Regions from separate parts of the Homo sapiens genome. Here all the other regions are linked to region 7. The links come from fine-mapping of genetic effects on gene expression. A gene starts in region 7. Each other region holds a variant in brackets. All regions are shown on one strand. Distances are from middle to middle.

Region 1 (4,271 bases), 67 kb before region 7:
AGCGCCGGGCATCTTTTTCATCCAACTGCTGTTCCTAAAACAAAAATCAACTGCAAATAACGGTTCCTACCCACAAGCCTGGGAAGCCTTTGCAAATCCCAGCACGCTACGGGAACAAAAACGCTGCCGTGGGACGCGCGCCTTTACCTCCACGCGGCTGCCGGGAAGGTTCGGAGCCCCCCGGGGAAAGGCACCCAGCCTGGCACTGTGGTTGCCGCAACCGCGTGAGGCAACAGAACCGACGGGCAGAGCGAGACCCTACCTCACACACAACTATTTTAAAATAACATAAAGTAAAATAATGAAAAGGAGCAGACATGTCTAGAAGTATGCAGATGGAGAGGGCGGGGGCGTGCAAATGCAGAAACCGCGAGTGTGGGTGATGCCAGGAGGACGTCTGCCAGCTCCCAGCCCTCTGCCTGGCCCCTGCCGCTGCCCCTTCAGGAGGGTGCGCGCCCCCTGCCCCACGGGGCGGCATTTCTCTGGTACGATGACATGAGCACGGGAAAGACACTTGTGGGAGACTTCCAAAAGAGGTGACCTGCCTCCAATGGGGCTTCTAAAGAGCCGCTTTTGGGACCCCTGGGACTTCACTCAAAAATTGGTGAAAACATTTGAATCCGGTTTCAGATCTCTCTGGAGTGAATGCTGTAGTCTACCACGCACCAGCAGGAGGGGCTGGATCTCATTCAATGAAGCTGTCTGAATGAGATCTTAAAATAATATTTTCTATTCTTGAAATGTCACTGTCCTAGGACCGGCTCAGCTCACACACAGTTTTATCCTCAAAGCGAACAAGCAGCATCCAGGATGGTCCTGGGCCCGACTCGAGTTCCTCATTCAACAGGTGCAGGAGAGGCTCGGGGTCAAAGACCCAGAAGGACCAGCTGGAGGGTCCCTGGACTTCAGATCCCCCAGCGCATCCCAGAACCACGACAGAGGATATGAGTGCGGAGCGGCAGCAAGGAAGCGGGTGGAGCTCAGCCCGGGGTGGTCGGCAGACCCCACACGACAGAGCGGCCCAGGGAGGAGCGCAGAGTGGCATGATCACATGAGAAGCGGGTGGGAGGGTGACTGGTGATGAGAGTGCCGGAAATCACCCTTGAGGGGCCAGCTGGGCACGCGGTGGGCAGGGAGCCGGTGCACCAGCCTTCCCGGGCCAGAGGCAGAGGCCGTGTGCTTGGAGATGGTGGCAGCGCATACCCAGCACAGCCTCCTCCCACCAACCCAGGGCCGGACTCCGGGCCAGCAAGTGCCATGAACTGCAGCAGAAGGGTGATGAGGCCGGGGCCCACGGGAGGGTGACAGGGCCAGAGCTGATGCTATGTAGACAGAAAGGAAGGAGACGAGTCCACCAGCCCTCTGGACCAGAGCCAGAGGAGCTGAGCACCTAGGGCCAGGCTGGGTGGGGAGGTGCCCAGGCAGGAGGGTGCTGCCTCAACTCGGGCTCTGGTCTCCTGGGGGAGTGGCCCATGCAGGGCCATGCAGCCACATGGCCAGGTCTGTCTGTGACACGGGGTGGGCCGGTGGGCCTGGGAGGTGCTTACAGGGCTTCCCGAGTGGTCTGAAGCGTCTCCTGCACCAGCTGCATGAGGAAGTTCCCGTCTGGGGCTGCCCGGGTGCCGGTCGGCCTCTCGGACCTGGGACAGCTGCTCATCTAGAGCCTCTTTTTGGAGCTGCAGTCTCTGAGCATGCCCGGCTTGAACCCCTAACTCTCTCTCCAGCACGAAGACTGCTCTGTCTTTAAATTTTATCTCCTCCATCTACAAGGAGAACAGAACACAATCACACAGGCGGCAGGACACGGATCTGCAGTTACCATAGAAACGGGCGCAGCCCTGCCAGGCTCTGGGCTCTGAGACCGGAAGCAAAAGCGAAGCATCCTGGACTAAGAGCAGGAGCCCGTGGCCCTGGGCTGAGGCACGACACCCGGGCTCCCAGCAGGCCCTGGCTCAGCCGGCTACGCAGAGCTGCTGCCAGCGGGAGACTCCTTCCTGACGGTCCCCGGGCTCTGTGTGCTCAGCAAGGCACCCCATTCCGTGCTGTCCTGCCGGGGCCCTGGGTGCACACAGGGGTGGTACTTTCTAGCAGGGTCAGCAGAAACCACCTCCAGCTCCTGACTCTGCTGTAGGTTGGACAGAGAGGAGGACACCCAAGTTACCCACACTCTGCCAATAGGAAGGTGCCACGGCCAAGTTTCTTCCCTAAACAGGCAGGGGAGACCATGGGGAACAGAAATTCTGGCCTGAAAGCCAGTGCTACCCCTTCCCCAGCCCAGGCCCACTCCCCAGGGGAGGGCTGTGCAACGTAGGGGCACCACTGTGGTCCTTGGACACCGCCCCTCCATGCTTCTGGGCATGGCTACAAAGCTGGGGCCCCGCACAGCTGTCTTCAGGCAGAGCCACACTGCTCATTAATCTGGCTG[C/T]GAGCCAAGGCTTTTGGGGTGAGACGGCAGCCCAGGGGTGTGCAGGATGTCTGCCCCACCAGTGGCTGTGAGAGGTCGGCGGCCCTCCCCACCCTCCCTACAACGTGGCGCTTTGTGCTCAACCTATGAAGGGAAGAAGTCCTTCCTTCCGGGGATATGGCAGCCGCTGCCTGCAAGTACCCCGCCCCGCTTCCGGGCAGGAATGTGCCAGCCAGAACGCGGGCACAGCAGACCCGACAGCCCCCGCTCTTCAGACAGACACGCTCGGCACTTTGGGCATCATTTTCCACGGCACTAGATTTATGAAAAGACAAGGTCTTTGGGGATGAACAACTCAGTTTGAAATATATTTTCAAACAACAGAGCAGAATGGGATATCTTGCTGCTTTACCCATTGTTTGAGGTTTAAACAAGCTAATAAATCTGCTATTGCTGAAATTAGCTTGGAAACAAAGAAATGAGATGTCTAATTAGCCTGGATGGAGCAAGTGATGAGCTGAACAGAAGAAAATAAATCCTTAATTGCTAAATCCCCATTTTCTCTGCACACAGCAATGCTGAAAGAGGCAACACAGTCAGTTAGCAGGAATGGGGCCGGTGAAATAAGAGCGTGTCCATCAGCAGCTGTGCCTGCGGCCTGGCATTTACACTCTCAGACTCAAACAAGATTTTCTTTTATCAGGAGCCCCCACCTTGCTCACGGTGGGCTGTTTCCAGCAGCAGGCAGGGCAGGATTCGGGGGCTTCCCATGCCTGTGCAGGCGCCGCACCCCACCCTGCACTTCTTCCCATGGGGCTGTGGGTGGGGGGCGGCACACCTGTCTCCTGTCCCACCTGCACCCACACAGACACCCGGGGGAAGAGCCCTCCCAGCGGGTTCCGGACTGAGAGGGCTCCCAGGACACGGGACGTTCAAAGCTGAAACAGGCGTCCTGGTGCACCAGGCTGCAAGCATCACCCCACTGCCAGCATCTTCCACTGGGACGAATGCTATGGCTTCCAAACGGCCGCCCTGTGTCCTCTCCTGTGCCTACCCAAGCTGCTCCACTCACAACCCTAGAGTCAGCTCCACAAACAAGAGTCAGAGGCTGTCATAAAACATCCTACCCCGGCACTAAGAACAGGATCCACAACACTTGCTGGAGCCCCCGGGTGCCCCAGAGCTCCCATCTCCCCGGGCCCGACACCCTCACCCCTTAGGTACCCTGTCTCTCAGGCCCCCATACCCTCACCCCATAAGCTCCCATCTCCCCTGGGCCTCACACCTGCACCCCAGAGCTCCCATCTCCCACACCCTCACTCGTTAAGTCCTGTGTCTCTCAAGCCCCCACACACTCACCCCATAAGCTCCTATCTCCCCAGCCCCCCACACCCTTACCTCATAAGCTCCCATCTCCCTGCCCCCCGACTCTTCCCCATACTCTTCATCCCCTGAACTCCCGTCTCCCCACAACGCCCCCATACTCCCTCACCCCATGAGCTCCCTCTGTTGCCTTCCCCACCCACCAGGACCTCCTCACTCCCAGCTGCAGAGGATGCCTGGAAACTGGAGAGAAGCCCCTTGAGACGGTACTCTCCAGGACAGGGGGTGTGCAGGCCGACGCTGAGGCTGGAGGAGAGAAGATGCCCCTCCACTCTGCCCGCCCCCGACTTGCCTGCCCCCAAGCATGCCCCGCACAGTGTCTCTCTGCATGGGGCCCCGACATGCAGCATCACAGCCACCTGTGACGGCTGTCCATAGGCAGAACCCTGAGCCCCCCAAGATGAGCATGTAGAACCTCTAGGGTGGAGCCTGGGAAGCTGCATTTCATAAGCCTCCCTGCTGTGAAGCCCACGGACATGATCTC
Region 2 (4,271 bases), 160 kb before region 7:
GCTGTGACCCCGTGGCAGCTGTTTTTCCTTCTTTCTGTCGGAAAGCTCCGGAGATCTTCCACTCTTTTGTCAACGGCGGGACCGGCTACTCCTTCGAGGTGGACTGGTGGTCGGTGGGGGTGATGGCCTATGAGCTGCTGCGAGGATGGGTATGGACCCCCTGCAGCCCCTGGGCTTGGCTGCCAGGCCCCTGCTCTCTGCCCCCACCAGTGCTGGGGAGGGGGTGGCTGCCCCAGTGTCCAGGTGCGCAGGGATGTCTCCACTGTGTCTGAGGAGTCACGCTTTTATCGAAGTGTGTAGTTGGTGATGGAATGCCTGAGCAGGAGGAGGAAGGACAGACTCACTGTGGTTTCCCGGGGCCGCTGCTGGTGCCTGCAGGCCAGCCTCTGTGGGGGTGGACAAGGCTGAGAACTGGCCAGCAGGGGTGCTGCCTCGGAACTTTCCACAAAAAGTTTCTTTTGGGGCCCTGTGCTCTTACCCTTGTGGCCACGGCGAGGCCAGTCCTGGAGACCGGGAGGCTGGGGGTCCTCTTGTGGACCGTACCCCTCAGCCCTGCACAGGACCCCACCTCTGAGGAAGCCAGCTCCCTCCTGGCCCTCTGGGGCTGATCTACCTGGACCCAGGCCCCCTGGGATCCCAGCCAGATGGGCGCAGCAGCCAGGGCGCAGGACCCAGGCGTAAGCTTTATCTCACCCAGGCTCCTCCGCGGCAGGTGGAGGCCAGGCTGTGCTCAGAGCTGTGCCTGCACTTGGGGTGGGGGGAGGGGGTCCTCTCAGGGCGATGGCACCTGTGTCTGGCATTGTTCTGGGTGTCCTGGGGGCCAGGAGGACCTGCCCAGCACTGCCTCCCTGTCTCCAGAGGCCCTATGACATCCACTCCAGCAACGCCGTGGAGTCCCTGGTGCAGCTGTTCAGCACCGTGAGCGTCCAGTATGTCCCCACGTGGTCCAAGGAGATGGTGGCCTTGCTGCGGAAGGTGAGCCCCCATCCCTGAGCCTCCTCACCCTCCGAGCACCCACCTCCCTCCCTCACTTACCTGCGGCTCGGGACACCCCCTCCAGTGCACAGTTAGTGCCGCTTCCTGGCAGGCACAGATCCCTTCACTGCAACCTGTGGGGGCCTCCGCAGATGGCAGCCCCAAGCCCCAGGAAGCGAGCTGGTGGCAGGCTCTGTGGCCCTCTCATGGCGAGCCCTACCAGGTCACTGGTGTCCTGGTGATCCCCTGAGCTGCGTCTCCAGGCACCCTCACAGCAGGCTTGTGCGCCCGCCCTGCCGGTCACCACAGAGGAGCCCTGAGCCACGTCCCCTTGTCCCACGTATTGGAAGGAGGGTGTCGGGTGGGTGGGTTCAAGCCCATGCTATCTCCGGGACCCTTTGCCCCAGTGCCTCCTGGGGAAGGTGGGCAGCCACTGCCCACTGCAAACACCTCTCAGGGGACATCAGCCTGGCAGGGACACGGGCAGGGGTGTGGCCATCAGTAGTGCCTCCCATTTGTGATCTGGTGCTAGGCTGGGGCTGTGCCTTGACTGGGCTGCACAGCTCCCTGTTCCGAGCCTCGCATTAACACCATAGGGGGTTCGGAGTCAGAGCCAGGCCCAGGCAGGACAGGGAGGGGAGTGAGTGTGCCACACGGGCCCGGCTGCCTCCCGGCCCCCGTGTCTCAGGCAGGTGGGGCCTCCTGCCCTGGAATTGTAGCCAAGCAGCCTAAATCCTTGGGGAGGCCTTGCCTGCCGGGGCCTCTCCCCAGCCCCGAGAGTCTCTTAACTCTGCTGTAGCCCCACGAAGCTCAGTCACACCTGCCCAGGTGGCTCACAAGGTGGCACTGGGCTAGAGAGGGCCTGCGTGGGGACTGGGGATGACCCACACGCCCAAGCCCAGGTCTGGGAAACCTCGCACGGGGTCTGGGTCTGCGGCATTTTCCCTGGAAAGGCGGGAGGTGCCAGCGCTGGGATGTTGCTTCCCAGGCCATGCATGGCTGCCCCGGGCTCATCTGGCCTGTGGAGGTCCCATGATTCGGTGAAGGAAGTGGCTCTGGGATAGTTACTGTGAGGCCAGCCATGTGCCGAGTGTTAGCCGCTAGCCGGGCCTCGGCTGCCACCTCCTGGCAAATCCCAGCAGAGCCTTCCCTGCAGATCCCTCTGCTGTCCTCTGGCGCCAGGGGTTTAGGTAGCAGCACTGAGAACAGGCGTCCCTTGGGCCACATGCTGAGCCAGCCACGGTGCTTTGCCTGATGTCGGCCGTCGGCACCACCCTTCCTCGC[G/A]TGGCCCTGAGGTTCCTGAATTCTGAACCTCAGGCTTGGTGGGACCCTCCTCAAGGTGCCCTGGCCTGGGGGTGGCGGGCTATTCCGTGCTGGTGGGCTGTGGGCCCTGGACCCTCTGACTCATGCCTGGTTGCAGCTCCTCACTGTGAACCCCGAGCACCGGCTCTCCAGCCTCCAGGACGTGCAGGCAGCCCCGGCGCTGGCCGGCGTGCTGTGGGACCACCTGAGCGAGAAGAGGGTGGAGCCGGGCTTCGTGCCCAACGTAAGCCTGTGGGCGGCTCAGGTGGGGGGCCCTGGGGATGGATGTGGCGTCCTCCACGGGCCGGGGCTCAGCACCCATCCCTCTGTAGAAAGGCCGTCTGCACTGCGACCCCACCTTTGAGCTGGAGGAGATGATCCTGGAGTCCAGGCCCCTGCACAAGAAGAAGAAGCGTCTGGCCAAGAACAAGTCCCGGGACAACAGCAGGGACAGCTCCCAGTCCGTGAGTGCCAGGGCAGGCTCAGGGCGCGGCGGCGGGCTGGGCTTGGGGCTCCTCTCTACCACCGAGCAAGGCGTGTGGGGACCCCTGGCAGCGCACACGTCTCGGAAGTCCAGCAGACCGTTTCCTGAAGTCCTGAGAAGGCCAGAGACCTCCCTTCTGCCTTTCCCAGCCCCCACCTCGCTCCTTATGAAGCAGGTGGGCAGGGACAACCAGGGCTGGGGTTATGAGTGCACGGGGATGGCCATGTGAAGCCTTCGTGCTTGCCCAGGTGTGCTGGTGTTGGTTGTGTGTGCGGGGACGGCTATGTGAAGCCCTCACACTCGCCCAGGTGCGTCAGCATCAGGTATGTGTGCCGGGACAGCCATGTGAAGCCCTCACACTCACCCAGGTGCGTCGGCATCAGTTGTGTGTGTGGGGACGGCCATGTGAAGCCCTCACACTCGCCCAGGTGTGCTGGCTTTGGTTGTGTGTGCAGGGATGGCCACATGAAGCCCTCACACTCGCCCAGGTGCGTCAGCATCAGGTGTGTGTGTGGGGACGGCCATGTGAAGCCCTCACACTCGCCCAGGTGCGTTGATGTTGTGTGTGCAGGGATGGCCATGTGAAGCCCTCACACTCACCCAGGTGCGTTGATGTCAGTTGTGTGTGCAGGGACAGCCATGTGAAGCCCTCAGACTAGCCCAGGTGTGTCGGTGTCAGTTGTGTGTGTGGGGATGGCCACGTGAAGCCCTCACACTTGCCCAGGTGCGTTGATATTAGTTGTGTGTGCAGGGATGGCCACGTGAAGCCCTCACACTCACCCAGGTGCGTTGATGTCAGTTGTGAGTGTGTGCAGGGATGGCCACATGAAGCCCTCAGACTCGCCCAGGTGTGCTGGCTTTGGTTGTGTGTGCAGGGACGGCCATGTGAAGCCCTCACACTCGCCCAGGTGCGTCAGCATCAGTTGTGTGTGTGGGGACGGCCATGTGAAGCCCTCACACTCACCCAGGTGTGTCGACATCAGTTGTGTGTGGGGGGACGGCCATCTGAAGCCCTCACACTCACCCAGGTGTATCGGTGTCAGTTGTGTGTGCGGGGATGGCCACGTGAAGCCCTCACACTTGCCCAGGTGCGTTGATATTAGTTGTGTGTGCAGGGATGGCCACGTGAAGCCCTCACACTCACCCAGGTGCGTTGATGTCAGTTGTGAGTGTGTGCAGGGATGGCCACGTGAAGCCCTCAGACTAGCCCAGGTGTGCTGGCTTTGGTTGTGTGTGCAGGGACGGCCATGTGAAGCCCTCACACTCGCCCAGGTGCGTCAGCATCAGTTGTGTGTGTGGGGACGGCCATGTGAAGCCCTCACACTCGCCCAGGTGCGTCAGCATCAGTTGTGTGTGTGGGGATGGCCACGTGAAGCCCTCAGACTAGCCCAGGTGCGTCAGCATCAGGTGTGTGTGCCGGGACAGCCACGTGAAGCCCTCACACTCGCCCAGGTGTGCCGGCTTTGGTTGTGTGTGCGGGGACGGCCACGTGAAGCCCTCATGCTCACTC
Region 3 (4,271 bases), 140 kb before region 7:
TTCCAGCAAAGTCCCGCAGAGAACAGCTTCTGCCTGGTCCTGCAGGCCCCACGGAGCAAGTCCAAGCCATCCACCCAGAGGCAAGGGAGCTGGGCCTTGGCATCCTCGGGCTTGGGTGAGTCACCCGCAGAGATGCGAGCTCCCGGGCAGTCTGGCTGCTGGAGGGCCGGGGCACTTCAATAGCCCAGAGGCCGTCATCCAAAGCCACAGGTGGAGGCCCGATGGGGATGCCCAGACACTCACTTGAGGGGACATGGGCGGAACCTGGACAGCGTCCCCCACGCTCACGTGTGCCTTTCCATCCACAGGAGAATGACTATCTTCAAGACTGCCTCGATGCCATCCAGCAAGACTTCGTGATTTTTAACAGAGAAAAGTGAGTGTGTTGGGGGTGGGTGGGCGTGGTGGCAGAGAGGAGGAAAATGGGGCTAAGGTTAAGGTTTTCTTGGCCACGTGAGCGGGCACCTGTGGGCCTGGGGTGCGTGGCCCTGCTCTCTTTGGGGACTCTGAGCAGCAGCTATGGAGGGGAGCGGCGGGAGGCCCCTGCCAGGCTCTGGCATGTTTGTGCTCCACGCGGGGCCCGTGGCTGGAATCTTCTGGGGAGAGACACATCATTTGCCCAGATGAGGGGTGGTGACTTCCTAGGAGGCCCCATCAGAGCCACGTCAACTCCCCCACCCAGGCACGCCCTCAGTCTCTCAGCAGACCTTTCCTGAATGTCAGGCCCCAGGGGACAGAAAGGGCACAGATGACTGGCAGCAGGCAAGGCAGGCCAGAAATAGCAGCAGCTGCCACGGTGGGGCCCAAGGGAGGATGGATGCTCCCTCTGCCCGCACGGGGCAAGGAGGGCCTCCTGGAGGAGGTGGGTCTGAGCTCTTATGGACAGGACGTGCAGGGCAGCACGTGCAGACGGCTGAGGGCACTGACTGGCACCCTGGGGATCAGATGACCGGGTGAAGAATGAGGCTTAGCCGAGCCTCATTCCCAAGTCACTGACCTATGGCACCTGCACAGTCAGGCCTTTCGGCTTCTGGCTGGAAACACGCCGAGCCTCGCCAGCATGCTCACGTGCCCCCACCCGTCCCCAGGCTCCCTGCCAGTGTATCGGGAGCATGGCCTCTCCAGCAGACACCGAGCCTGTGGCCCACGTTTGGGCATCCACGCCATGGCCTACCCCATGAGCCCGTGGGCAGGTCATGGGACCGTGAGGCCAGGGAGGTGGGGGCATAACGCCCTCCATGTGTTCCTGCCACCCCAGGCTGAAGAGGAGCCAGGACCTCCCGAGGGAGCCTCTCCCCGCCCCTGAGTCCAGGGATGCTGCGGAGCCTGTGGAGGACGAGGCGGAACGCTCCGCCCTGCCCATGTGCGGCCCCATTTGCCCCTCGGCCGGGAGCGGCTAGGCCGGGACGCCCGTGGTCCTCACCCCTTGAGCTGCTTTGGAGACTCGGCTGCCAGAGGGAGGGCCATGGGCCGAGGCCTGGCATTCACGTTCCCACCCAGCCTGGCTGGCGGTGCCCACAGTGCCCCGGACACATTTCACACCTCAGGCTCGTGGTGGTGCAGGGGACAAGAGGCTGTGGGTGCAGGGGACACCTGTGGAGGGCATTTCCCGTGGGCCCCCGAGACCCGCCTAGATGGAGGAAGCGCTGCTGGGCGCCCTCTTACCGCTCACGGGGAGCTGGGGCCATGGATGGGACAGGAGTCTTTGTCCCTGCTCAGCCCGGAGGCTGTGCACGGCCCTCGTCACAAGGTGACCCTTGCAGCACAGGCCGCGGGTGCCCCAGGCTCGGCTCAGGTCTTGGAGGTCAAGGGCATGGGTTGGGGTAGTGGGTGGGGAGGTGAATGTTTTCTAGAGATTCAAACTGCTCCAGCAATTTCTGTAGTTTTCACCTCTGAGAATTACAATGTGAGAACCGCTCGATGTTGCATGTTCTGCGTACGTCCTGTGTCTGCCTGGCCGTCAGGCCGGTGCCTGCCGTTTCTGGTTGGCCTGGACTTGGGGCAGCCAGTGGGGTGGGCAGCTCCTCAGGGCAGAGCTCCCGGACCATGGCTTTGGGGTGGGTGCCTGTCTCCGTGGCCCTGGAGCCGTAAGGCTGTGGAAGGCAGAGACGGTCCTGGAGGCAGAGGAGCCCAGGACAGCACCGTGCACCGTGGAGCCACCGCAGTGCCGGGCAGTGCTTGGCCCTCCATAAAGGGACGTATCCCTCTCACTGTGGCTGGGTGGTTCTGTGGTTGGAACTGTAACTAACTGGGTAAACGGCCTGTGTGCTTCTCTCTGGTCTCGCTGGAGGAGGACGGGCTCAGCCCATCAGCCCAGCGCTCCAGACAGGCCTGTGCTGGTTTCCTCTGAGGAAATGGGTGTGGCGGGTCTGTGCCCCTTCCCAGGACAGC[G/A]GCCATAGTGGACATGTGCCTAGACCTGTGTCCATGAGCCCCACTGCACCCCTGGCAAACAGGGCCCTCCCGTCCTTGGCTGGGCTGCGAGATGGAGATGACAACGGCCAAAGAACATTTGGGGAAGAACCGGCCATGCCACGAGCAGAGTCAGAAGTCCGAGGGGATAGAATGCAGCTTCCCGTCCCCCACCCACCCCTGTCCTCTGAATCATGGCAGAAACTAGCCTTCCAGCCCTCAGCAGCTCACATGGGGGACACGGCACCCAAATCACCACCAGGAAGGGTGGCCCGGTCTCTGCGAGGGCCCAGAGGCGCCGTGTACTCGGTGGAAGTCTGGCGATGTCAGAGACAGGCTCGGGGCAAGGACAGGTGTGGGGGTTTGAATAAGTGCATTTGGGGAACATGGCAGGGTGGTGCACCTTGTCCTCCTTCGAGACACTGGTGAGGTGTGGGTGCTGTCTGGTTCCCTTGATCGCCCCCCACACTGGGGCAGAGTGGGAGATGCTGGTGTGGGGGACATCAGCTCCCACATCTGGGCCAGAGGGAGCCCCGGGAAGGAAATGCTGAGGGCCCAGGGCCTTCGCCTGGGATCTGCACAGCTTTATAAGCAGCCCAGGGTGAGAGATGGGCCTGTCTGTGGTTCCCAGAGACCACGGCAGGAAATTCTCTGTCACCATCGGTGCATGGGCAGGGGCCAGAGAACCGGTGGCACAAGGTGTCCCTGGCTCTCTGCTCAACAAACAGCGAGTGCCCAGTGACTGCGACCAGGCCCCGCTCTTGGGATGAGGACAACCGTCTGGGAACGTCCACGCACCCTTTGAGACACAGCACGCGCCAGCACCGCAGTCACACACCGGGGGCTCGGGTCAGCCTCATAGCTGCCCGGCCTTGAGTGCTGGGCCTGCGTCTGTGAGCAGCGCCCACCTGGGTGGCGGTGGTGTGTGCTTCACTTCCACACACTCCCGTGCATGCTCCCCGGCCTTCTGGGGTGGCTCGGGCTGTCCGGTGAGAATGTAGGCGGGGGGGGGGGGGGGCCTCTGTCCCGCCCTGGATGTTGGCTGCCCTCTGCCCCGCCCTGGATGTTGGCTGCCCTGCCGGCCCTCTTCCCTGTGAGAGGGTGCGCTCCTCCCTGCCATTGAGGGGAGAAGAGCTGCGGCTGCAGGAGTCGTCGGACCAGCCCACAGCCAGCCAGGCCCCGCCTGTGCAGAGACGGCGTGGGGGAGAGGAGACGGGGCCTTCCTTCCATGCACAGGCGGCTTCAAACCCAGACGTCTTTAATGGGCCTGATTCACATCAGAGGCAGGATGACTGCCTGTCCAGGCGGTGGGTGGCATGCACAGGTTCCTGGCTACAGTGTCCTCAGTGTACAAAGCTGCTACTAAGAAGCCTACGGAAATACACAATCTGTAATAAGAGGACAGTGTCTTCCTAAAGGATCGCAAAACTTCCCTGGATGAGGGCTACATGGAAGCTTAGGTGTGGGCCTTGGGGTGCGTAAAAGGGACCCTCCACGGGCGGGGCTGTGCTGCACCAAGTTCTGATGGGTCCCTGAAGTCTCAGCAGCTGTGTGAGCAGGAGGGCTCTGCGCCCACTTTCCTCCCAGGCCTGCGATGGGCACAGGCCTCTGAGGAGCGGCTGCGGGAGTGTAGGGCTCTGCGAGGCAGTGACTGGTGGTGGGGAGGCGGCGGCAAATGCCCACCAGGCGGGACTCGGCCCCTCGCCGGTTCACCAAGAAGCCTGGTGTCCAGCTGCTCCCACACTGTGAGCCCGGCAGGTTCCCTGTCCCCAGGCTGGGCCCAGCGGGCACTGGGGTGCCTGGGCTCAGGCTGCCGGCATTGTCCCTGCCATGTGGCTCCACCTCACCCTGGCAGTGACATC
Region 4 (4,264 bases), 100 kb before region 7:
ACAGGGCTGGGACTGCTGGTCTCCCGCTCCTTCTAGAATGAACCTCTGCAGCGAACCTTCTGGCCTGAGGCTGTGCCTGGGCGCCCTTGGTGGATGCAGGAGCCAGATGCTGCTGGGTACCCAGGTCCCGACCCCGCGAGGACGCCGCCTCGTCCACCACGCACCTGAAGAACGCGCCCCAGGGGACCTGCAAGACGGAGCCGCCGCCCCCTTCGCACCTCCTCCTCGCTGCGGACCCCTCCTGAGTCAAGGGTGAAGATGGAGCTGCCGCCCTCTCCTGAGTCCAGGGTGGTGGTCGCACCTCCTCCTCCCCCTCCCATTTTCTACGCAGGGAGCATCTCCCGGGAACAACAGTGCCCGTGGCCCACAGCCGCTGCCCACTGCAGGAGACACAGGTGGCTCTCAGACACGGTGTGGGTCGGAGGTGGGGGAGATGGAGCGCTCCCTGGGCGGCCCCCCATGGGGCTGCCACTGCCTCCCCAAGAACCGGCTCACCCTGCCCCAGGGCCCCGCTGAGTCCCACAGACACAACGGATCCACAAACCCTCCCATAGGGAACCCCGCTGGCGAGGAAAGCTCCACGGTGGAGCATGCCCAGAGTCCTGACCTCCCTCCCTCCCTGCTGGGAGCACCCAGAGTCGCCTCCCCAGAGCGGACACCTCAGGTGCCGGGGCCGAGTGTGGGGCGGCGTCCACGTTCAAGTGCACGGGAGCAGCGGAGGGAGGCGCACTCGGAGAGCGGCCTCATTGCACCTACGGGGTTTCTCCCTTTTCCCGCAAGCCTCCTCCTGCAAGTGGGAGGAGGACCAGCTCTGCCAGACGCCAGGTCCCCGTGGAGCACCATGTCTGCAGACCCTGCCCCAGCGACAGCTCACGCCACGCTCCACACCAGCCCCCAGGCCCTGTCCCGTCAGTGGCGGGAGAGGTGATCTTGACGGGTCAGCAGTGGACGGGGTGGCAGCGTCACGCATGTGCAGACGGGGACACAGAGGTGTGAAGAAGCTGGAGCTCACCTCGCAGGGAGGGTGCAAAGGCCCTCCCCGCGGACAGATGGCAGCCCTTACCTGTCAGCCTCTTGGTCCACGGCTCGTGCAGCGTCCCCACACAGGGCGGGAGGGGAAAGGCCGTCCCCGCGGTTCCCTTCTTGCGCCCGCCATCCCCACCTGGGCTGCTCCTTGTGTGCAAAGGCTTGGGGTGAGGCTTCGGTGCCCGCCGGGGTCCATGGCCTGCAGGGCTGGCCCGTGCAGGGGCTTCCAGGCTGGGTGGCTCTGGGTGCCCAGGGCCTCTGTGACTTCTGGAGATTCACTATGGAGGCAGCCTCTGGCATCCGTGTTCCAGCCAGCTCCGCCCCCTCGTCCCACCTCCTGTCACCACGCTCCCCACGCCTTCCTTGGCTCAGTCCCGCGGTGCTCCCAGCTGGCGGCTTGGGCGGGATCTTGGCCTTCCTGTCTCAGGTTGAGTAGGGAGGCAGAGGGTTGATGGCACCACGCGGCCCGCGGCGGCCACGGCTCTTGTCTGTCCCCACAGAGATGATGATGAACGAGGGTGGATGTGGGGTCTGTTGGCCAGCGGGTGCTCAGGACCCCAGCAACATATTGCAGCATCGGAGGGGCCCCTGAGGCGTCGGGGAGCCCTCCCAGGACCATCCCAGGGAGCCTCCAGGTTCCCCTGAATGAAGGTCACCGTCCAGCTTTCATCTTGTCATCAGGCCAAGCCTCTGTTGTTTCTGAAAATCTTCCTCCAGACACCAGTGGCAGCTACTGTGAGAACCAAGAGAGAGGAGGGGACCCGCGGCTGGTGCTTCTGCACAGAAGCAGTTCTCACCCCTGCTTGGCAGGGAATGCTACACATCCCTGGAAATGGGATGGGGGCTGCCGTCCGGGAGAAGGGACCCAGGGTCCAGCAGCCAAGGCCAGGCCCGTCCCGGAGAAGCCCCCGAGAAGTCGGCAGAGCCAGTTCTAGTTCTGGCACATCCCACGTGGACGGCAGCTCCACGCCCCACACACTGCCCCTTCTCACTCTTCCTCCACGGGACGGGCGTGCAGAGACCAAATCTCCCTGGGTCTTCAGGATGGAGACGCGACGTCCCATTTTGTCCCTGCTTTCTGGTCCCACTGGAGGAAAAGGGTCCGATTCAATGTGGGGCTGGAAGAAATGAAACGTAGAGTGCAGAGTCAGC[G/A]AGGCTCCGCTTGGCTGGAGTGAGGGGCGAGGGCCGAGGGGCGAGGGGCGAGGGCCGAGGGGTGAGGGGCGAGGGGCGAGGGCCGAGGGGTGAGGGCCGAGGGGTGAGGGGTGAGGACCGAAGGGCTGCGTGGAGAGGATGTCAGGGAGACTCCACTTGGCTGGAGTGAGGGGTAAGGGGTGAGGGATGAGGGGCTTCATGGAGAGGGAGAGCCCTGCTCCCAGGGGAAGCTCCTCTCGGGACCTGCTGAAGGGTGCAGACTCGAGGACCGAGGCGAACAATGATGTGACGTCCTACTTGCCCCTCCTCCAGTTTGGAAGGAGGCAGCCATCTATGCTGGCGGGTGCCATGGTAGCAGCAGCCATGACCTGTAGACTCCAGCTATCCTGGCCTAAGCTGCCCGGCCTGGCAGGGAGACCAAGCCCTCCTGGCTGAATCTCCAGCACCGCCCGAGCTTGTGCTCAGCACCACCCAGAAAAGAACAAGGACGAATCACAGAACCACCGTGTCTGCCCCCAGGGCCTGCTGCCGAGTGCCACCAAAGCAGAAAGACCCCCTAGAGAGGGTCCTGCATGTTTCTGCTACACTGGGGTGGTGGTGGGAACCCTGCTCTCCTTCCCGTTCAGGAAAGGTGAGCACCTTGCGGCCTCTACAGTGGAAGACTCCGGGTCCTGACCCCCAGGGAGGGACTTCCAGTGTTGAAGGACGCGGGTGGCTTTCTAACAACCCTTTTGGGGATGCTGGGTCATCGCCTTCCAGTTGATCGAATGGCAGGTGGGCAACTCCCTGGCAGGGCAGGGGCAGAGGAGTCTTCCGGGAAGCAGAGCGGGACCCCTGCTGGGCCCTGCCAACGAAATACTCACCACGTCAGGGTGCCAAGACGGACTATGACCAGAGAATGAAAGCTAAGGAGAAAAATAAGAACAAAAATAGAAACTGAAACGGAAAGGGGAGGATGGAGAAACGGAAGGAAAGAAAGAGAAAAAAGAGTTTGTAGTGCTTCTGGCAAGAAATACACGCGATTACAGACTGAAGACAGAGCTGTTGGCAGGGAGGAGAGGACGCTATTAAGGACTGTGCCGAGGGAGGGATGCTGCCCAAATCCCCGGGTCTGAGGGGTGGTGCCGCCACCCCTAGGAACGCACTGGGGACTCTGCACCGGGCAGATGCGGGTGGTGGGCGCTGGTCAGGGGCCCCACACCCAGCGTGTCCCCAGCACCACAAGGCCAGCCTCCCGGGGACTGGGTCTCCTCCTCCCTGAAGTGAAACCCATCGCTGAGACCTGCTGCAGGAATTTTTGGCAAGAGCACCAATGGGGTAATAATAATGGTGAACGTTGTATTGAAAGACATTCCAAGTGCCCAGCAAACAAAAGCAGGCCTGTGAGAATATTGTGGTCTCAGTCCCACCGTAAGCAGCAAAGTACAACCAGCACCCTGAGCAGACAAAGCGCACACAGTCTCACTCTGGGCTGGGGGTCGGGAGCCAGGCCCATCTGGACACGAGAGAAAATCGGGCAGTGGGGCATCGCTTGGGAATGAAGAGCTATTTAGCTAGATTTAAGAAATAACACCTGATCTATTTTTTTCTTTGGAGACAGGATCTCAGTCGGTCACCCAGTCTGGAGTGCAGTGACGTAATCATGGCTCACTGCAGCCTCAACCTCCCAGGCTCAGGTGATCCTCCCACCTCGGCCCCCTGAGTAACGGAGATTATAGGCACGTGCCACCATGTCCAGCTATGTTTTAAAATTTTTTTCTAGAGACAGGGTCTCACTATGTTGCCCAGGCTGGTCTTGAAATCCTGGGCTCAAGCGATCCTCCCATCTAGGCCTCCTAAAGTACTGGAATTACAGGCATGAGCCACCACGCCTAGCCCTCACATTTTTCTAGTATTTAATACAAACAAATATCCTTAGGTTAAGATGCAAAATGAAACAGACATTTGGTTTGGGGAGAGGCTTTGCCCTCTGAGGCTCCAGCCCCCAGAACACTGTGTCCCCTCCCGGCAAGGCCGGGTGCCCCTGCGTGCTAGTGGGTGCTTCCCCACGTGGCCTGGAGTCCACCGGGGCCTCAAAGGCTGTGCC
Region 5 (4,169 bases), 120 kb before region 7:
TGTACACACGAGCTGGGAACGTATTTTCATTTTCGGCGGAAACTTACTTTATCAAGCCATCTTCCACGTGCACATCAGCGTAAAAGGACTGGTCGTCATTCACGATCCTCCCACCTCTGATCAGAAGGCGGTCACTCTATCGGGAACAACAAAGGGTAATTTTTCTCCAAACTGAGTTACTCAGTAACACTCTTGGTGCAACTCCTTCCTCTGAAATTATGACTGAAACATTCAGGCAAAATTTCTAGACGTAAAAACGAGCACAAAAGCCTGCAGCGGCTTACTATTCCCCAAGAAGTGGCACCAGGCGCTCAAAAACAGTTGCCCCTGGAAGTGCCACGCACGCCCCACAGCTGCTGCTCAGACCTCGCTGAGGGCAAAGCCCGTGTTGGTGAAAGTGTGGTAGTGCCACAGGTCATATTTATATCTTCTGATTTACCACTGGATTGAGGAGCCCCAGCCTGAGGTGGGAGGCGAACGCTGCCTCATGGCCTCCTGTGCAGCCTCAGAGATCCTGCTCTCCTCCACCCTGTCTTCCACCCACGCAGAGGAGGCTGGGAGCGGACGGAGCTGGACTTTGGTTCCACCCAAACACTACAGACCAGTGATGGTGCCAGGAGGCGGAGGCAGACAGCGCCCCCACAGGCATGGTCCCCACCCCAGGAGGCTGCCTCCCACTGAGGGGAGACCAACGGCAGCAAAAACACACGTGCACAGATCATCACAGTCGGTGACGAATGCGCAGAGCACAGTGAGGGCGCCATGGCAGGGCCATGAGAGAGGGGCTGGGAGAAGGACCTCTGGGGCCAGGGTGGCTGATACAGGGGCAAGGCAGACATGGCGAGCGTTCCAGCCAGGAAGCAGCCTGGCCTTGGGGCAGGAAAGGGCTTGAGCTGCCATCAGCAGACCTGGGAGGAGGCCGAGGGATGGAACCTTCTGGTGGGGTGGTGGTGCCAGAGGCAAGTCGGTGCCCAGAGCTTGGCAGGGGCAGGATATGTAGGCCTGGGGACTCCATGGCTGCCCCCTGACTGGGGGCCTTAAGCAGGTTTCAATCCTGGTTTGATGTTTTAAAGAGATCACCTTTGGCTGCTGTGTTAGAAAGTAGCTTGTGACAGGTAACAGTGGGAGCCGGATCATTGCTGGGGTGATTTCTGAGTGAGATGAGGGGCTCTGGGACAGGACTATGGGAAGGGACGGGAGGAGAGTGGATTCCAGAGAGGCTGGGAGTCAGGAGGGCAGGACTTGCTGACCAAGAGGCCATGGGGGTGATGGGGAAGAGATGGGGTGACCTCGGTTCCAGTGCAGCTCGGACGCACTCCCAGTGGGACACAGAGCGTCAGGCTGGTGAGGCCCGCTCTTTGTAGGTCAGCCCTGGCAGCACAGAGCTGTGGCGTTAGACAGGGATTGACTCCAGTGCTTGGCAGTCATAAATCCACTTCTAAGAATCCTACCAGATGGCCGGGAAGCAGAAGATTAGGCAGAAAGTAGGGTGTCACTGATGGGACTCTGCATGACCGTCAGAGGTGAAGATCTGACCTCATTGGAGAATGGGGGAGAGAAACACAAAAAAGGAGTGAAAGGAGGTGGAGAAGGACGCGCCCACGGGCTGGACTCGGCAACGCTTTTCCCTCCACCGTCTGGCGTGCGCCTCAGCACGCCCTGCAACTGACCCGGCAGGACTGACCGTCTGCATTTAACAGGGAGGTCCGGCCGCCTGCTCTGGGTTTCCAGGGCCCACCCATAGGTGGCCAGGGCCCTAGCCTGGGGCTAGAGCCTTCACGCACCGTCAGTCTGAAGCCAAGAGCATTAAACTGAAGTGCACAATTGGTAAAACTCTCAGAATGAGAAGGAGTTCATTATCTAGGAACTCCATTACAGGATTCACTGCTGACATCTAACTGTGGGGCTGTATTTTCAGGATCCCAGTGACTTGTCAACCTCTACCCCATAGTCTACAAACGGTTGGCAGACTATGCCACAGGCCAGACCCAACCCTCTACCTCTCTTCATACAGCCCTAGGCTAAGAATCGTTCTTGTATATTCACTGAAAACAATAACAAGAGTATGTCATGACTCAAAAATTCTATGAAGTTCACACTGCAGCATCCACAGATGAAGTTTTGTTGGAACACAGTGGTGCCCATCGACTTCCTAAATGTCCAGGACTGCTTTCCTGGCAGGGCCAAGCAGCTGAGACAGGAACAGCGTGGTCCGCAAAGCTGACAACATTTACTCTCGGGCTGGTTGTGGAAGAAGTTTTAGA[C/T]CCTTGGTCTACAGAGCTGTCTGTTCCCAGCCGCTGCACCTCTCCTCCTCCTGCCCAGTCCCAGCTGAGCGCCAGGCTCAGCCCTGACCCGGCACCACCATGCATTTGCAGAGCCTCTGTGGCCGCATCAGGCCCTGGCTGCCTTCCCGGTGCTGTCCCTCTTCTTCACTTTCCACCCCTCCCAGGGGACCCACGCATTTTCAAGGAAGCCCTAGAAAACGCAACCGGGCAGAAGGAGGCTTGAGGAGACGTGTGGTCTGGGCTCTCTGCTCATAGGCGCCCAAGTGTTCAGGCACCCGCACTGAGACTGGGTTTGGAACCCAGAGGAGACGCAGCTGGGGTGTGGGGCTGTGCTCTTCTTACTGCACTCATCCGGATGGAGGTGAAAGTTCCCGGGAAGCAGCTGCCCCTCCGCACTGACATGGTTGCCTGACCTCCCCTGGGAAGGGGTCCTCCTGCCACCCCCAAACTCGACCCCCACATGCCAGCTGACTGGCAAGACCTCCTGCATCAAGACCAGACCCAGCCGGGCAGAACCCTCTGGAGGCAGCAGCCCCTCCCATCTGGAGAGGGGAGGGCTCCTTCCTCGCTCAGAGTCTGGGGGAGTGGAGCCCACAGCCCACGGCTCGAGCTAATGCCAGAGGTCAGACCCCACGGCCCTCCCGCCGAGGCCAAGTCCAGAGTCGGGTCTGGGACCCCATGGACTCCCCCGCCCAGGTCCTGCCGGGTCCCGAAGCCTCCTTCCTCCCACCCCCATCTCCCCCCGCCCGAGCGGGGAGGCTTTGTTTCTGGCAGAGCGGGACCTCCCGCGCCGGTGCGTGTGGGTGTTGGGGAGGGGTCTCTGCTCTCGAAGGTTCAGGGGCTGCCAGGGTTCCCGGCCAGTGGCCCTTGACCGCTCGCTTTCCTTGGAGTCGCTGAACCCAGGTTACTGGAAGGGTTCGGGGCCACCAGGGACTCCGGCCAGAGCGGCCGGGGCTAAATCGCTTTGTCTCGGACAAAGAGCTCCCGACGCAGCGCCAGTGCGTCCAAGGGGCGGGCGACCCACGGGCTGCGCCGGGAACGGCATCTCCCCGCGCCCCGGACCAGCCCGGGCCAACAAAGGGCCGCGTCCGCCCGCCTCGCCACCCGACCGCCGTGGGAGAAAGGAGCCGCTAGCGCTCCGAGGGACAGGCCGCCCGGCCCCGGGTTCTCCCCGGGCGCAGCCGAGGCTCCCGGAAGCCGGCAAGGCCGGGCAAGGCCGGGCAGGGCCCGGCAGGGCCCGGCAGGGCCGGGCAGGGCCGGGCCGGGCCGGGCCTGGGCGCCCCGCTCCTTAAGGGGGTCTGCGCGGCGCTAGCGGGGACTCTCGGACCCTGGGGCGCGAAGGAGCCGAGCAGGGAAGGGCGGGCGCCAGGACAGGGACCAGACGCAAAGGCAGGGACCCCCCACCCACGCACAAGACCAGGAGGGTCCGCCCGGCGTCCAGGCCCCACTCCGGGCGGCGGGCAGGGGGCGCCGGGCGAAGCGGGACCGGGCTCACCGTGATCCGGGGGATGCTTTTCTTGCCCTGGAAGGACATCCTGCTCCTGGGGGTCTCTGGTAGGGGCGGCACAAGCGGGGGCGGGCGGGCGGGCGGGCGGGCGGGGGGACGCGTGAGCCGGGACGCGTGCGTGGGGACGGCGGGAGACAGACTGCGAGCGCGCGGGGCCGCACGGCTCCGTTCCGGTCCCGCCCCCGCTGGGCCCCGCCCCCACCCCGGCTCCGCCCCCGGCAGGCCCCGCCCCCGATAGGGCCCGCCCCAGCCCGAGCCCCGCCTCACCCCGCCCATCAGCCCCGCCCCCGCCCTCAGCCACTCCTTCGCTTTAAAGCCCCCCCAGCGCTGGAACCGCTGCAGGGTCTGATCTCTGCACCCCGGGCCCCCGCGCAGAC
Region 6 (4,271 bases), 76 kb before region 7:
TATCCTGAGGCTTCCTCGATTTCCACAGTGAGGAGTGACATTTCCAATTATAATACAGAATCAGACTGTGGGATGCCGGCTAGTCTATTTTCTTCATTAATCTTTTCTGTATCTTCTAGTTTTTAAAATAACCATGCAGCACTTCTCGGCATCAGATTTTCCTCTGATTCTAAATGACATTAAACTTTTTTTTACATGCAGTTTGGACATTTTTACTCTCTAAGCAAAGCTTCTGAGTTCTTTGCTTCCATGTGGCCCCCGAGCAAATGTTTCTCTGGCACCCGACAGGAAAAAGGGAAGACAGGATGCTTTCTCCAGCTCCTCCAGCTCCTGGCGAGCTTGGCCAGGAGGATGCGGCTGTTGCCCCGCCCCCGCTGTGAGGGAGAAAGGCTGGGCCCATGAGGCTCTGGGATGTCTCGGGGCTGCTGTGCTTTATGATGCTCTGAACCGAGGCCTTGACTTTTTCCTTTCTCCAAGGGTCATGCAAAAATTAAGTCAAAGTGAAAGAGGCGATATTTAAAGTCCCCAGTTACGGAGACAAATCTCTCCGAGCCTGAGGAGGGGACGCCCCCTCCAAGGCCAGCCCCCCCCACCCCGACTCAGGACAGGAGGAGGGCACAGAGGGGTGGAGCTCTCTCTTAGTTTTCACAACAGACGTCCCCAATGAGGTGCCAGGAAGGCAGGAGGGAAACCAGCCACGTCACCAGGGCGGTCTGGGTGGACAGAGGATGAGGCTGGCGGCTCCCTGGGGCACTAGCGTGGACCACGCTGGGGATGCTCTGTGGACACTCTCCCCTCGCCCCAAGAGGTCCGTCCCCCACCCAGCTCAGCCACCCTAAGTTGCAGAATTGCCAGACACTGGCATCTCTGGCCCTGCAGGGTGGTTTTGGGGTGGGGAGGCCAACGGGAACCCCACACCCCACAGCTGCCTGCTCTGGAGAACCCCTCAGCTCCCCCGGAAAGCAGCCCGTCTCGCTGTGAGGGGTACCAGGTGCAGGTCCTCCAGCGGCTTCCCCTCCGAGCCTCAGTAAGGGAGGGTGGGGCGGCAAGAGGACCCCCGACCCATGGCCCACGCTCTCCCCACGAGGCCTGGTGCCTGCACTGCCCTCCACGGCCCGCAGAGGGCACCCGCCAGCCACACTGAGGCCTTTCCTGGGGGACGACGCTAAGGTGAGCCAGGGAAGTGGGCGGAGGGACACGGCTGCTGGGGTGCTGCCCAGTGGGGAGGCCGGGGGAGAGGGGCCGGGGCCGGGGCCGGGGCAGGCACAGCCTGTGTGAGCTCAGCCTTTGAGGATGAATGACCTCCACAAGTTTCAACACCGAGCTCGATGCTGCCACGGGCCATCGCCATGCTGCCAAGAGTGGAAGAGGTGGTCTGGAAGGAGGCCCACCCTGGGCGCTGTGGGCCCCTGCCACCACTACCACCCCGCCTCCCCCAGGACCCTTACTCACACCTGTGCCTGGCACCGCTCTGGGCCAGTCCCTCCCACCTGGGCCAACTCCCAGCACCGGGATCCCCAATCCCTGGTTTTGATCGGCTTCCATGGGCACCACCAGGACTGCAGGCAAGGGCAGGAGAGGAGGGGCCCGGGCCCAGGAGGGCTAGTGAGGGGGGTGTCCCAGCCCAGGCCACGGGGTCAAGCGGGAAGGCACGAGGGGGGCCGGAACGCGCGGTGGAAGTCACGTAGACCTTAACTTCTCGCTCTGCGTCCAGCGTCCCTCCAACCTGCTCCTGCAACAAAGCGTAGGCACGCTGCAGGGCCTGGTACTCCATGGTCAGCTGCCGGAACCTCAGCTCCGTCTCCTCCTTGGCCA[T/C]GCCCTGGAGAGACACGGATGCCACACACGCACAGAGACACAGTGTCAGTAGCCAGCACCTCCTCCGATGGCGGGGCCCCGGGGCTTCCCTTCTCCCCAGATATCAAATGGTGTATGGGGGGGTCTCTCTAGCAGCATGAGGGAGGGGACCTGCTCCAGTGTGCAGGGAGGGGCGGCTGCCTGGGGACTCAGTGCTGTTTGGAGAAAGGTTTCCCTGGGGAGGGGAGCACCGAGCCCTGGGGTGGGAGCTGAGTCGGCTGCACGGCTGAGGACAGGGTGAGCCTGCTGGGCTGGTGGCCATGGCCAGGGGCTCAGCTGGGGCTCCTGCTTGCTAGCCAGGCTGCCCTGACCCAGCAGACCCTCTGTTACCAACCAGGCCTGCACACGCTCTGCTCTGCTGAAACACGTCCTGGGAAGAAAGCTGGGCTTTGTGAAGGGGGTAAAGTACCCCAGGCAGCACGTCTCCTCCCAGGTGCACTCTTGCAGGCTCACCCTGCTAGCTGCAGTGCCCCCCGTCACCCCAGGGAGAAGACAGGTGAGCCTGCTGCTGCCTTCAAAGGGTCCCGGTGGACCCCCGGGGCTGGAAGGGTTGGCCACGTCTAGGAGTGACTGAGCCCAGAAGCCTTGGCCTGGCCCAGTTCCCCTGCCCAACCCTGCACCTGAGGCTGTGAGAGGATGTCTTAGATCCCTCAACAGGTCTATGGCCATTGGGCCACCCTCCAGGGTCTGCCACGGGAGGCCCAATCCTTGGCTGTGCCATTGACTGCAGACCCCACTCCTTGTCCCACAGCCACAGGGTCTGGGTCCCACAACACCAAGCCCCGACCTGGTGCTGAAATGGCTGCCTGCGCCTGAGGGTAGCCGTCCTTCTGGAAGAAGGGGCTGGTGGGCAGACACACCTGTGCTGTTATCAGAAAGAAAACTCCTGCTCAACACCCCTCACCCTAATGTGCTCTTGGCACTGAGACCAAACTCCCTGATGAGTGGTTCAGACCCTCCTGGGGAGGCCCCTTAGGAAGGGAGAGCTCACCGTACCCCTATGCAGAAGGGGCGTAGGCTCAGTGGCAGAAGGAGGCATGGTTTGGCCTTCATGGGAGCAAGAGCGGGCCTCAGCCCACACCCCAAGCCATGTCATGGGAGCTTCTCACCGTGCCCGAGTCAGCTATCAGCGGGTCAGTGCCAGTGAGGGCCGCGAAGGGCTTCCCCGTGAAAAGCCGGCAGCCCATGCCCAGCCAAGCCCAGGACCCGGCAGGAGACCCTCGTTACCTCCTCCAAGCCCAGGACCCGGCAGGAGACCCTCGTTACCTCCTCCAAGCCCAGGACCCGGCAGGAGACCCTCGTTACCTCCTCCAAGTCATCGTCCGGGGTGCACGGGGTCTGGTCCGTCCTGTCTGTTTGGTAAGAGACGGAGGAGCCGTCGGATTCCAGGGAAGCCTCTTCGTCGTATCCAAAGAAGGTCTCCACAACCACCGGCTTGTGACCAAAATGCGACGTGTCAGTTCAAACCAGACCCAGGCACAGCCGCCTCCTCCCGCCGCCTCCTCCCGCTGCCCAACGGTGGGGGCCGCAGCCCCACCCTGCGACACACTCCCATCTCTGTCCCTGGCACAGGCCGAGGAGGTGGCCTGGGTGTGAGGGGCGCTCTATGGCAAGGCTGGCAGGGCGGGTGGGGAAGGGGCCTGGAGTCCCGTGGGTGAGCGGGTCCTGGCCCTGCCCTTGGTGGTGGGGAATGAGGCCCTTCGTGGGGCACCGTCCCTGCGGTTCCCTGAGGGTGGTACCCGGGTTAACAGAACCGACGATGGGTGCCTTCCCTGTGTGATCTCATTCCCAGTGATGCATTTCTGTTCCATTTTTTAAAGTTTCAGTCCTTGACTGATTGGAATACAAACAAAAACGGGGTCCTCCGCCAGCTGGTGTGAGAGGCCCTGCCTTTGGGGACCCTCCAGGTTCACCCCGACGTCTGCATCTTTAGGGCCCCCTCACCCCTGCCTTCAAGAATCGAAGAGGGACTCATCTGGGTCCCCTTCAGAAGTGTTACAAAATGGAAAGCCCGCCATCTTCTTCAGTCCCTTCTGCCGTGGCCACAGTGGCCTCCAGGTCTCCTCCCAGTTCTTCTGCCAGAACCTTCCAGCAAAACTCCCTCAGGGACCCCAGGGCCACCCGACTTCCCCTACTCCCCGCCAACCACTGGCCCCTGTCCTGTGTGCCTCCCCACACCCTGTGTCCTCCCTTCACAGGGCCAAGGCGTCTGCTGGACACTTCCAAATCCCAGAGGGGTCCCGAGCGGGGAGAGCCTGGACAGCTCCTCCTCTCCACCTTTCAGAGGGCAAGTGTTTGTGACCGAGGAGCATCTCACAGTCTAACAGCGAGAAAACACTGCTGACAGCTTACAAGCCACACACACACTCACACTCACACATACACACTCACATACTCTCACACACACTCACACATAC
Region 7 (4,271 bases):
CCCACAGTCCACACGTAAGCCCACAGTCCACACAGAAGCCCACAGTCCAGTCCACACGGAAGCCCACAGTCCACACGGAAGCCCACAGTCCACACGGAAGCCCAGAGTCCACACGGAAGCCCACAGTCCAGTCCACATGGAAGCCCAGAGTCCACACGGAAGCCCACAGTCCACACGGAAGCCCACAGTCCACATGGAAGCCCACAGTCCAGTCCACACGGAAGCCCAGAGTCCACACGGAAGCCCACAGTACACACGGAAGCCCACAGTCCACACGGAAGTCCACAGTCAAGATCAACCTTCCAAGAACATGTATAGGACACTTACTTCTCTTGGAGGAGCTCGATCCAAAATACGGGGGCAGAGGCACAGCTCTGACTGACAGCTCCCTTGCTGTGGGACCACCACCTGGTCGTTTGGATATTGTTAGTTAGGACCTAAAGTAGTAAGGCCTTCCCAGGGCTGTCGGGAGAGAAGCAGGAGCTCCGTGCATGTTCTCTGCCACAGCGTGCCCTTAGGTTTCACAGGGGTGCCCTCAACTCACAGGAGAGGCAGGGAAACCTCGGGAATAGCAGGAATGCCAATGCCCTCCCCCCACCCTCAGCCTTGGAGAAGGAATGTGAATGTGCCAGGCGTCTTGTCTTCTCCAAGCACATATTGATCATATTGATCTACTCTGTGGGACTCTTAGGGAACCTCATCCAAACGCCAGCCTTTTGCCGGTAATGCTGTGAATGTAAACTGAGGGTCCTTCCTCGGCCCGGCTCACTTTCCTCTTCTGCTGCTCTTCTCGGGAACTGAGGTGGCGTTTTACCACGGACCTGCTCAAAGGCCCGATCCACTGAGAGGACTCTCAAGTCTACTACTCCAGGCTTGGCTTGGAATGAGAAAACCGTTTTGTGACTGGTTCTCCCACACTGTGAACAACAAAATCAACGGCAGCAGCAAGTATTTACATCCCTAGGGTGCCTGCATGGTTTCCCGGCCAGTCTCACTGACATCTCAATAAGCATCAGTACAACAACGTACTGCCAAGTTACCTGTGACACCCTTTCCACCGCAGCCCTGCCAGTCCCAATCAGCAGTGGATTTTCTTTGAACAACTGTAGAAACTGAGGCATGGTGCAATAACCTCAAAGAGTGAATTAGTAAGTTAATAAGCTGTTGTTTCCCAAAAACCTGGAGTTCCTTGCATAAGAAGTTATATCAATGAGTGATGTGTGATTCTTGATTAAGTTTTAAAGAGAAGACACCATCCAATCAATGCGCAGGTAGGTGGTGAGGCCTCAAGCCATAAAGATGACCTATTCTTCAAAAGGAAAACAAGCAGCAAAAAAGTCCAGCCGGTTACCCCACGGAGCCAGGAAGCACCCGGACGCCGCAGGCCTCCCGGGCTGTGCAGACAGCTCTCTGGTGCTATGTCCGTGGGATTCTCACCACAGCCGGCAATACACAGACTCAGCCTGGCTTCCCCAACCCACCCCACCACGGCTGCCGTGCCAACAAGCATCCGCTTTACATATGGGATGGAACACACACCCATGCTTTAAAGGAGAAACCTACTACTGGGAACGCAGGCCCAAGCCTCCTCCAAATGTGTGCATGAGCATGAACGTGAAAACGGATAAATGAAGCATCTTCCTCTGTGATCGTCCCTGCACCCCTCAGAGGACAGACCCCAAACTGTCAACTTTCCAGCCACATACGTGTGCGCACTAAATACAGAAGAGCACCAGGTGGAAAGAGCCTGTGCAGAGACAGCCAAACCGAAACCAACAAAGCCTCTGCAGCAGTCAGAAAATAAACACTCACATTCCAAAGCTCGCTGTCTGCTCCTCTCTCCCATCGCTCTGCTCGACTGTGAGAATCTTTCCCGGCTCGTCCAAGACTCAGTCCGGCTTTTGCGCAAATCAGCTCCGAGCTTCTATGACTCAGCAAAGAGCTCGGCTTTTATTTTTCAGATGGAATTTACCACGCTGTGACTACATCCAGGGGGAGGAACCATTTCCCCGAGCTGTTTCCAAGCAGAGCCCTTGAGCCAGGATCGCCCAAGCTCTCCCTGTGCACCTTAAGGCCAAGCACAGAGGCATCCTCTGAGCCCCCAGCCCAGCTCCCTGCAGGGCGCGAACAGACGCTTCTCGGTGGGGAAGGGGCCCGCAGCTCTGCACGGCCGGGCGGCCGAAGGCACAGCCACGCAGGTGAGATCCTGAAGGCAGCTTGGCTCTATTCAGATGCAGAGGCGGCCTGGGCTCCGGGTTGGCCCGGCGGCAGTCTCACGTGAAAACCAGCGAGCGGCAGAGGCCACGGCTGGGCCATCCCTGCCCTCACCGCCCCCTCGGCTTCCTGGCTGCTCCAGGACCGCGTTCTGGCCGGCTTTCCCTCCTGCTTGGAGAACCCCCTTCAAGATTGCAGAGTGAGCGGGTCAATAATAGGAACGAACTTCCACTCTGAGGGTATCTATTTTAAATGTCAGGTGATAGAAGGGATTTGCACACACTCAACACTGAGGACTGAAAATGCAGACGGGAACCAGACACAGGAGACCAGCAGCATTCCTGTGTGAAGGGCAAGCACGAGAGCTCACCTGGCCCGCCAATCCCACACGCAGTCCATAATCACCGTCCGGAAAAGCCGTGTGACAGCCGCTCTGTAGAAAACGCAGGGTCTGACAGGGTTTCCAAGCAGGAGGCCGCTTAGAGTCCATCTGGGTCCGATTCCATCAAGGCAGCCTTGAGGGCTGCCGGTGCGGGTGGCCTGAAGCTCCTGCCCTGCCCTGTCTCCGGCCACCAGGGCCTGCGCTGAGACTGCATCGGAGCCTGGACCCCAGAGCAGGCCTGCACGCCCAGGTTCTGGGGGTCAGCCTGGGAGGACCCTACATCCCCCCTGCTCCCAGCCCGCTCTGCCTCAGTTCCCTCGCCTGCACCCTGCCTGCCCCCCACAACCTGCCTCTTCTAGTCAAGGCCAAATGTCACTTCACCCCAAAGCTGAGACCGGCAGGCATCACCCCGAGAGGAGCCCACAGAGTGAACGCCGATGATAACATGTCAGAGGATGGCACAGGGCAGGCCAGGACTTCGGGTTACTTCTGCTGTCTGTCTAGATCTGGCCACCCTCATAAGTTAGAGCAAGCAAAAAATTGTCCTGATTAAAACCATGGCCACACGTCTGGCCAAACGTCCAGGGTGATGCAACAACCCTCCAAGGGTCACATGTCCTGACTCGTGTGACGGAGCCGCCCGCTGTCCCTGGTTACCAACCATCGCTGCCTCTATGTCACAGGGGAGGAGGCTGGAGCGCCAAGAGGCCATGCGGCTGCCCCACAATCACATCCCTGTCAGGTCCCGGAGCTGGATTCAGACCCGGAACGGTGGGTCGGAGATCCAGACCCCTCCCGTGTTGCCCTGAAGCAAAGAGGGTTCCCATGCCGGCGGCTCGGGGTCCACGCCCGACCCCGAGGGTGGCTCCTCCTCAGTCGGAGGCAGGCCACGGGGACAACCTTCCTGACGAGGGCAGTGCCCCCTCAGCCCAGCTGTCCTCCTGCTGGAATTGATCCTGGGGAAACAACACAAGGATGGTGTGTGCACAGATTTGACTTTAGTCCAAATACTTTATAGCACCTACCCCGTGCCAGGCGCTGTTGTAAGCCTTTAAATATAACTCACTCAGGGATGCTTACGGCAGTGTTGTCCATAATATAACAGGGAATAATTGGAAACATCCTAGACGTCCAACAGAGGAGTGATTTAACAAGCGATGGGAAACGCACATACGTCCAAATACAATGGGGCCATTTAAAAATGTCCCCAGTCCAAGCTTAACAGAAAGACGTAAACAACCTATTGTTTAAGTTTTTTAAAGTCAGCCATAAAAAAGCTGGTATCGTATGCTCACATTTCTGTTTAAAAAAGTGTGTATAGTATGATCACATTATTTGTTTTTAAAAACGCGTGCCTGTGTGTGTTGCACTCAAGAAAAACAAAGCCTGAAAGCGTAGATACCAAGCTCTAAAGTGGCCATAGCTCCAGGTGATAGGATCTCAGGTGACTTGATATTTTGTTTTGTATCTTTCTGAATTGTATGTATTTTTTTTGTAGAATTGGAAACAATATTTTTAGAATCAGAAAAAACATCTACTTTCATTTCCAAACAGATGCACATGCGTGTATGTGCTTTTGATTCCTGCAGTAAACGTGCCCCTTGCAGACGGTCCGTTCTCTCCCGGAGCCCAGAGGGAGACACTGTCCCTTCCAAATCCCCACGCTGGCTGAGGC

Alleles and levels. Alleles are on the strand shown, and positions count from the first base shown. SD is a standard deviation of normalised expression in the study named. Not every link is listed here.
With allele T in place of C in region 6, the expression in cerebellum of the gene that starts at base 1,928 in region 7 is lower (large effect, 0.88 SD a copy in GTEx).

The links.
Region 1: its variant is fine-mapped to the expression of JAKMIP3 in cerebellum (GTEx, PIP above 0.99).
Region 2: its variant is fine-mapped to the expression of JAKMIP3 in whole blood (TOPMed, PIP above 0.99).
Region 3: its variant is fine-mapped to the expression of JAKMIP3 in whole blood (TOPMed, PIP above 0.99).
Region 4: its variant is fine-mapped to the expression of JAKMIP3 in blood mononuclear cells (TOPMed, PIP above 0.99). The same link has a PIP of 0.9 or more in whole blood.
Region 5: its variant is fine-mapped to the expression of JAKMIP3 in whole blood (TOPMed, PIP above 0.99).
Region 6: its variant is fine-mapped to the expression of JAKMIP3 in cerebellum (GTEx, PIP above 0.99). The same link has a PIP of 0.9 or more in adrenal gland, aorta, caudate, cerebellar hemisphere, cerebral cortex and hippocampus.

The regions. Positions count from the first base shown.
Region 1 is chr10:132,130,804-132,135,074 of GRCh38, reverse strand. JAKMIP3 (Janus kinase and microtubule interacting protein 3) reads right to left here. Exons shown (of 24, transcript NM_001323087.2): 4 at 1,548-1,763; 5 at 1-34. Among named protein-coding and RNA genes, the nearest start is that of JAKMIP3-AS1, 54 kb to the left of the region's middle. The variant C/T (reference allele first, on the strand shown) is at 2,426.
Region 2 is chr10:132,221,111-132,225,381 of GRCh38, reverse strand. STK32C (serine/threonine kinase 32C) reads left to right here. Exons shown (of 12, transcript NM_173575.4): 7 at 46-149; 8 at 859-975; 9 at 2,396-2,521; 10 at 2,610-2,741. Among named protein-coding and RNA genes, the nearest start is that of DPYSL4, 36 kb to the right of the region's middle. The variant G/A (reference allele first, on the strand shown) is at 2,260.
Region 3 is chr10:132,205,139-132,209,409 of GRCh38, reverse strand. It overlaps DPYSL4 (dihydropyrimidinase like 4), which reads right to left. Exons shown (of 14, transcript NM_006426.3): 14 at 3,651-4,271. STK32C (serine/threonine kinase 32C) reads left to right here. Exons shown (of 12, transcript NM_173575.4): 11 at 309-376; 12 at 1,259-1,918. The coding sequence ends at 1,400. Among named protein-coding and RNA genes, the nearest start is that of DPYSL4, 20 kb to the right of the region's middle. The variant G/A (reference allele first, on the strand shown) is at 2,392.
Region 4 is chr10:132,165,833-132,170,096 of GRCh38, reverse strand. JAKMIP3 (Janus kinase and microtubule interacting protein 3) reads right to left here. Exons shown (of 24, transcript NM_001323087.2): 22 at 3,042-3,114; 23 at 1,064-2,144. The coding sequence ends at 3,064. Among named protein-coding and RNA genes, the nearest start is that of JAKMIP3-AS1, 19 kb to the left of the region's middle. The variant G/A (reference allele first, on the strand shown) is at 2,179.
Region 5 is chr10:132,186,714-132,190,882 of GRCh38, reverse strand. DPYSL4 (dihydropyrimidinase like 4) reads right to left here and starts at 3,935. Exons shown (of 14, transcript NM_006426.3): 1 at 3,781-3,935; 2 at 48-136. The coding sequence starts at 3,819. JAKMIP3-AS1 (JAKMIP3 antisense RNA 1) reads left to right here and starts at 4,131. Exons shown (of 4, transcript NR_184044.1): 1 at 4,131-4,169. RefSeq lists an enhancer at 2,715-3,216. The variant C/T (reference allele first, on the strand shown) is at 2,265.
Region 6 is chr10:132,139,468-132,143,738 of GRCh38, reverse strand. It overlaps JAKMIP3 (Janus kinase and microtubule interacting protein 3), which reads right to left. Exons shown (of 24, transcript NM_001323087.2): 10 at 3,160-3,288; 11 at 1,691-1,819. Among named protein-coding and RNA genes, the nearest start is that of JAKMIP3-AS1, 45 kb to the left of the region's middle. RefSeq lists enhancers at 397-1,243, 1,244-2,091. The variant T/C (reference allele first, on the strand shown) is at 1,816.
Region 7 is chr10:132,063,603-132,067,873 of GRCh38, reverse strand. JAKMIP3 (Janus kinase and microtubule interacting protein 3) reads right to left here and starts at 1,928. Exons shown (of 24, transcript NM_001323087.2): 1 at 1,813-1,928. RefSeq lists enhancers at 1-129, 2,404-3,151.